Linked DNA regions of Homo sapiens. The protein of the gene in region 2 purifies or fractionates together with the protein of the main gene of each other region. This does not show direct contact. Each region holds a gene or a part of one and is shown on either strand. Other genes may lie near its edges. The genes, in order: HHIPL1 and DYM.

Evidence for each region.
Region 1: the proteins of DYM (region 2) and HHIPL1 purify together in Homo sapiens (affinity purification with mass spectrometry; one large-scale study listed by BioGRID and IntAct). This does not show direct contact.

The regions. Positions count from the first base shown.
Region 1 is NC_000014.9:99,647,980-99,651,795, reverse strand, and holds part of HHIPL1 (HHIP-like protein 1 isoform a precursor), read right to left. Parts: intron 1-3,816.
Region 2 is NC_000018.10:49,041,135-49,044,950, forward strand, and holds part of DYM (dymeclin), read right to left. Parts: intron 3,071-3,816; coding exon 2,921-3,070; coding exon of another isoform or gene 2,811-2,920; 3' UTR 1-2,810. UniProt on the Homo sapiens protein: Necessary for correct organization of Golgi apparatus. Involved in bone development.

The DNA.
Region 1 (3,816 bases), on a different chromosome or scaffold from region 2:
TCTATCTGTTGAAAAACAGTAAAACACGAAGTGCTCTCTAACTTGGCTCTGCCCATGGACAGCTCCATCATCAGCTCCTGCCTCTCCCCACCTCTCCAGCCTCCTGTCTACCTTCCATCTCCTGATACTCTGATATGGCTTGGATCTGTGTCCCTACCCAAATCTCGTGTAGAATTGTAACCCCCAGTGTTGGAGGAGGAGCCTGGTGGGAGGTGACTGGATCACGGGGCGGAGTTCTCACGCATGGTTTAGTTTAGTACCATCTCCCCTTGGTACTGTAGAGCGAGTGAGTTCTCATTAGATTTGGTTGTTTTAAAGTGTGCCCCCACACCATCTCTCTCTTGCTGCTGCTGTCGTCATGAGACATGCCGCCTCCCCTTTACTTTCCACCATGATTGTAAGTTTCCTGAGAACGCCCCAGAAACAGAGGCCACTATCCTTCCTATACATCCTGCAGAACTGTGAGCCCATTAAACCTCTTTTCTTTATAAATTACCCAGTTTTGTTTTGTTTTGTTTTGTGTTTGTCCGTTAGTTTTTTTGAGACAGGGTCTCTCTTTCTCTCTGTCACCAAGGCTGGAATACAGTGGCACCATCTCAGCTCACTGCAATGTCTGCCTCCTGGGCTCAAGAGATGCTCCTGCCTCAGCCTCCTGAGTAGCTGGGACTACAGGCGAGAGCCACCACGCCTAGCTAATTTTTGTATTTTTTGTAGAGATGGGGTTTTGCCATGTTGCCCAGGATGCTCTCGAACTCCTGAGCTCAAGCCATCTTCCCGCTTCAGCCTCCCATAGTGCTGAGATTACAGGCGTGAGCAACTGCACCCAGCCAGGTATTTCTTTATAGCGATGAGAGAAGAGACTAATACATACTCCCTGCCATTTCACACCTCTGAGCCTCAGCACAGGCTGTTCCCTTTGCAGGCATGCCCTTTCCCTGCTCTTCTCTGGCAGGCAGAATTCTCTTTATTCTTAAATCATGGCCATGGCCGTGGGGGAAGCCATGCTAACCAATCACAGCAGCTCCTGGGGTTTGGGGCAAATTGTGGACCAGGCACCAGGGCAGTGTGCCCATGAATCTGCATTTCCTCCTCAAGGCAACCATGGGAGGGAGGCCTGTTCTTATTACCACTGCACAGAGGTGGAAGCAGAGACAGCAGAAGGGAGCCCAAAGTATCATGTCACATGCCAGTGGGCTGGGGTTTGAGCCACGTCTGCTCAGCTCTACTGGCCAGCTCCCAACTACCCATCCCCAACGCCAGTTAAGTGTCCCCACACCACAGCACCCTCCCTGCACCCTACCCCTACAGCTCCAGGCTGTCTGCGGGCCTCCCTGTTAGAGCCGCCGGCCTGTGGCGTGGTCATTCTTTCTATCTGTGACTGACACCCTCCCCCACCTGTGAGTCCACCAGGCCAAGCCTGGGTCTGAGTCAGCTCTGGGCCCCCAGAGCTTCGGGGGATGCTCCTTCTGCAGTGGGGAGGTACTGACAGCCACACACTCCCTCCCCTCACAGGGAGGACCAGGCTGGGTTCCAGCAAGAGGCCTCTGGGACGTTTGGGGGAGGATTGGGGATGGGGGATGGCAGGCTGCCTCCCGGGGTGTTCTCAAGCCCCAGGCCAGGGCCCACTCACTCCTGTGACATGATTGTGGCTTTTGGTCATACCACAGCATGTCCTCCTGGCCCCTCTACTGCTGTGAGGCTAGGTCTCACCTGACTGGCCAAGGGCCACTTGGCAGAATGTCTTGGGGTCCTGGTCAGTTACTGTCCCAGGTACAGACCAGGGTGCCATGTCTTACATGCTCCCCTCTGCCAGTGAGCAGGCCAGATGGCCAGGCCTCAGGCCGCCGTGTGTGCTGTCCCTCCCATGGTTCACTGGGAACCACCTGTGGGTCAGCCGGCAGCTGCACGTGGACCAGGGAGGGGCTGTGTGCACACGTGCCTTCTTTCATCTCTGCAAGGTAGGGTCATTGTCACTATTTTATTTTATTTGTTTATTTTTTGAGACAGGGACTCTCTCTGTCATCCAGGCTAGAGTGCAGTGGCACAATCCTAGCTCACTGTAGCCTTGACCTCCTGGGCTCTAACGATCCTCCCCACCTCAGCCTCCAGAGTAGCTGGAACCACAGACGTGCTCTACCACACCCGGCTAATTTTCATTTTTATTTTTTGCAGAGACAGGGTCTCTCTATGCTTCCCAGGCTTGTCTTGAACTCCTGGGCTCAAGCAATCCTCCCGCCTTGGCCCGCCAAAGTTCTGGGATTATAGGCATGAGCCACCGTACACGGCTTGACTCCTATTTTATAGATGAGGAACTGAGACTTAAAGAAGGCCACGTGCCAAGAAGTAGCCAAACCAGGGCTCACACCCAAGCCTCATGATGCCTGGACTGGTGTTCTTTCCAGATTAGTCAGCAACATTTCATTCACCAAGAATTTACTGAGCAGAGATTGTACCAGGCACCATCTTGGTTCCAGAGACGCAGTGAGGGGCAGAACAGACATCTGGAAGGCAACGAGAGCCCTCCGTTCACCAAAGCCCAATCCAGAACTACAGAGGGAGCAAAAGTTCCCTCAGGGAGCCAGGCCGAAGACCTCGGCATCCGTGCGTCCCAATCACACAGCAGATGCTTCCTCGTGGCCTATGTACTCTTACTTACACACGACGTAAATGTGGTGCCCAGACCAGGGTAGTCCAGAGCTAGGAAGTGACAAGAAGACATAGTGATTGCTGCTGGCAAGAGGATGATCCGCAGCTTGGCCTCAGTGTGTTTAGGGGCAGGTGGCAGGAAGGCCATAGGAAACCAGCCCAGTATCGCAGGCTTCAGCCGCCCGGGCCATTCAGTGCAGGGCGGAGGGCCCCCATCTTGCCCAGAGTTTGCCACCCCCATGTCACTGACACTCGTGACTCATGGCCCTGGGTCCTGAAGGTTTCTTATGTCCACCGTTCATTTTTTGAAAGAGCAAGCCTTTGCACAGTGTCCTGTCCATCGGATATTTGCTTCTCACCTACTTCCTCATCTGGCAAACTGCTATTCATGACTCAAGGCCTACTCAAAGGTCTCCTCTTGTCCTCCATGCTCCCAGGGCTCTGACTGTCCCATCCCTGGCCCTTATGGATGCTCCCAATGCACTCTGTCCATATCTCAGACACGACACTCACTCCATTGAATCTTGTAGCTTACAGGGTGAGTTCTCTACAGCAGTCACTGCTCCGTCGCCAGGGGCGCTCCAGCCAGTCAGCTTGGCTAGGACTTCATTATCTCTTTGCATGTCTGTCCACTCCACGGACTGTGGGACACAGTGGGGCTTCAAGGAGGGAGGCAGTGTGGCAAAGCGGTTAGGAGAATGGCTTTGGAGCCAGCGCACACATTCCCCATGGGGAATGCTCCTTAACCTCTTACTGCTCTTAACCGTGGGCAAGCTCCTTAACCTCTCTGTGCCTATGTCCTCATCTGTGGAAGGGGAAAGGAATTCCAACCTCATAGAGTTGTTGGGAGGAACAAATGGAGAAGATGTATGTGTTTGTTCAGTAAATAATGAGCTATCAACATGCAACCAACATTCAGGAAGCCTTCCCTGAGGTATGTGGCCTTGTTCCTACACTCCTTGAGGAATTTCTGGCACCTTCCTGTGTGTGTCAGTCTCCTGAAGTGATGAAGGGGATTTTTGAGACTGGGCCTGTGACTTGCCAACTGTTTTTGGGCCCAGCATCCAGCACAGGGCTGCCTCCTAACAGGCTCAGGAAGAGCCTGCTGAATACATGAGCCCATAGAATACATTTCATGGAGATCTCCATCAGAAACCATGCTTTGATGAT
Region 2 (3,816 bases):
AGTCCTGCTGCAAGGTTGTTGTTCATAGATTGTATGACACCAGCCTCAACGGGTGACTGTGGGAACTAGAGTTAGAAATCTGAAGCTCTTCTGCAAAGTGCCTTGAACTCTTGATAGGGAAGATGCTATTGAAAGGGACAAATTCTTTTAAAAGTAAATATTGTGGCAGAAGTCTTTGTTGATAAAATGACACAATGCAGTAACAGCTTCAGATCTGGGGTAAAATCAGATGCCAATTTCCATCTGAACACACGATGATCCTGTGTTGCATCATTACACATTTTTACTTCGTGTAAAAATTTCTAAGCAAACTAATACTCAAAATTAATGCAAGTATAATGAAAGTTTATCATTCAGATTTATTGCCATATAATAAATCTTTCACAAAAATCAGGAAGAAGCCTCTGGTGACTTTGCAGAGCTGAGGCAGTGATGCACGTGGTGGGGCCTCCCTCCTGAGCGGGAACCAGGACTGGGAGCATCACTTGCAGGCCTCCATGGAGGCTGCTGCCCCAGCTGAGCTGTTAGCTAGTGAGTGCTTCTACTGTGTGATGAATGAGAAAAGGGAAAGAGGGGAGGGCAATCAGGGTTCTGGGGGCACCTCAGTGAGCCCAGAGGCCTGGAGGAGAGGCTGTATGATTCCCCAGTCAGGCCTTCCTTGGGAGTGTGCCCTCTGTCAAGATGACTGGGTTTTTGAAGGGCCTCATTTCCTCACACAACAAGCACTGACAGTCCTGCAGCCCAGGGACTGTCCTGTGGCACTGCCCAGCCCTCAGACTCAGAGGACAGTTCTGTGGTCCTGCCAGAAGCTCAGCTGTTCCACATGACCCTTAAACATTTAAACAATTTTTTGGTTTAAAGGAAAAGGAAGCCAATCAAAATGCTTTGGAAACAAATTAAAGTTGCAAATTATTTCCCCACATAGTAAATACATATCCTTGCTACCTGAAATGATAATCATCACTCCCCCTGCTGGCTGAGAGCGCTTCTCCTCCTTCAGACTGGCTCTGCCACAAAGCTAAGTATTAGTAGAAGTTGTTGCCAAGCCTCACCTCTAGCCTGTACATGGGCTCTGAGGTGAACACAGGAGTCAGAGTCCCCACTCCAGCAGTGACTGGAGGAGGCCTGACAGAACAAGCCCCTTGGGGACAGGAGGCAAGCTGCACTCACCTCTGGGACCCCACCCGGGATGGGCGCTCCACGAGTCCCTTGGCCTTAGGGAACCTCTGTTTCATTCCATCCAGACGAGGATAGGGAAGCTTCCTGCCCTACCTCGACAGCCTCTAAGAGCACAGCTTGGCCAGGCCTTCCCGTGTGGAGCCCACACAGTGGTGCACTGAGAGGCTGCCAGTGTTTTGACCTTTTACAGAGCTTGGGGTGACTGAGAATGGTTCCTCCGAGGCCCTCGGAAGATTTGATGGACTCAAATAACACGGGCCTGCAGCCCTGGGACACAGGACAGGAGAAGCCAGCCCTGACACAGATGAGCTGGCAGTGGATTCGAACAGTGTGCTCAGTCTCGTCTGGGCTTTTGTGCTTTCTATGTTGAAGACCAAATACTTTTTCTTTGAGAATGAAACTAGGCTCCTTATCTAGACTGTGAAGGGGCCCGTGAGGACACAGAGTGTGACTGGAAAGGAAGGTCCCAACTGGCCCTCAATGTGGCCCCAGTGGCTGTTTCCCTGCAAGAAGCTCCTTCCTCCAGCTCAGGCACCAACACACGGATCACACCGGCCCAGAAACAAAGAGCAAAACATGCTTTTCATCCCACGTGGAATACAGTATGAACAAATTACTCTCCTTTTTCTATTAGTGTGGGTGAAGGAAAAAGACTGTTTTCAAATGAAGCTTTTCTTTTTCCCAATGATTAATACAGAGTAGATTAACTTAATTTGTGCTAGACTCCAATTTAATTCCAGCAACAGTTCACAGGCCATATTCACAGAAAAGTTAATCTGGGCTTCATGAGAAGTAGCCATTTTCTTTTTCTTTTCTTTCTTTTTTTTTTTTTGCGAGACAGGGTCTCACTTTGTGGCTCAGGCTGGAGTGTACTGGCACGTTCTTAGCTCACTGCAGCCTTGAACTCCTGGGCTCAGGCAATCCTCCTACCTTAGCCTCCTGAGTAGCTAGGACTACAGGAATGTGCCATCATGCCTGGCTAATTTTTAAGTTTTTTGTAGAGATGGGATCTCACTATGTTGCCCAAGCTGGTTTCAGATTCCTGTGCTCAAGGGATTCTGCTAACTTGGCTCCCCAAAGTGCTGGGATTACAAATGTGAGCCACTGTATCTGGCCCATATTCTTTTTTAAGAAAAGATGCAGAGGTGTTAAATATTAATATCAAATTGTCCAGGCATGGTGTTTATGAAATTGTGTGCCCTCTGACAGGCAACCAAACACACACGACTTCATTTCTTTATTAATTCCTGCCTCATCATCTTTTCTCATTGATGCTCCTTAATGTCAAAGGAATCTCTCTCTCTCACACACACATAAGACCAAAACAAATATCTTGAACATGCAAAAAAATAGTCTACGCTTTTGAATAGTGTGCACTGTTGAATAGTGTGCACTGTTGGATAGTGTGCACTGTTGAAGTGTGATGTGCCTAAGGCAACAGGATCTTGGGAAAGCTCTAGATTTTTGGCTTCGAAATAAAACTGCATGTTGAATAGCAGGTTTTTACATTTATTATTGTTGTGTATTTCCTCCCCTTTTTGCAATACTATCTACGCTGAGTTATCTATTGCCAACTAGCACCAATTCTCCAAATCAAAGTGTGTGAGGAAAACACACTCGTGCAATCCTCTTTAACAGAAGATACACCAAGTAACCTGTCTGTCTACTTCTGTTACCCAGAAATAAAAGAACTTGAAGGGCTGCTTGGCTGGAGGGGTCCGGGTGGGAGAGCATCCTGCCCTCAGTCGGAATCCATGGTGAACAGCTGGATGTCCTGTGGATTCCAGTACAGGCCGACTGCTGAGTTGTAGACAAGAGACCAGACATAGGGGATAAAAAACTCCTCGGGCTGCTCCTCTTCCACATATTTGAATTTCAATTCTGGAAATTTCTGCAATGAAAATAAGATGATTTTATAATCCCACAGTTCCATGCACAAGCAAAAGTGGTGAGAGTTTGCAGGTGGTGCTGTGGTGTGCGGGGAGCCCACCCACCCCTGCCAACTGGTCACAGGGCATGAAAGCTCTGGGGCTTTAAAATATTTCAGCTATCAAATGGCTCCTGAGAAAATGTGAATTACCGATGGAGAGAGCAAGTAACACAATGGGTCCTGGTTGGCTAATGTCAGTTTGGCTGATAGTTCCCTGCTAGGGACCCCAACAGTGGTTAAGGTATGATGAGAAATATCCTAGCTGAGACATGGACCCTGCCTGGGAGGCAGACAAGGCTCAGGCTGATATTCCCCAGAGTGCAATGCTAGGGACTGGCTTTTGAGAGGCACTGTCCTCAGGGTTCCACCATTCTGGAGGTGAGGACCTTCCCCTTCACAATCCTGAGCCCTGACCTGAAGGGGTAGGCATGTGCCACCGGTGGAGGGGGGCTACTCTGGAGGAGCGGGGGTCTGGGGTGGCCAGCTTTCTTGGCCATAGCTTGGCCTCAGTCTCTTCCTCCCTGGAGGCAGGAGCAATGGCTTTGGCTTTGCGGAGAGGGAGCCCGAGGCTGCTCCTCATGGAGTCTGGGAAAAGGCCTAGGCCTGGCTCTACAAACACATCGCAGGTGCCCTGGTCTGCAAACTCCAGTCCTCTGTTATGTAAGGAGTCGTGCAGCTCAGTGGCCTAAGGCAGCACTTGCGTTTTA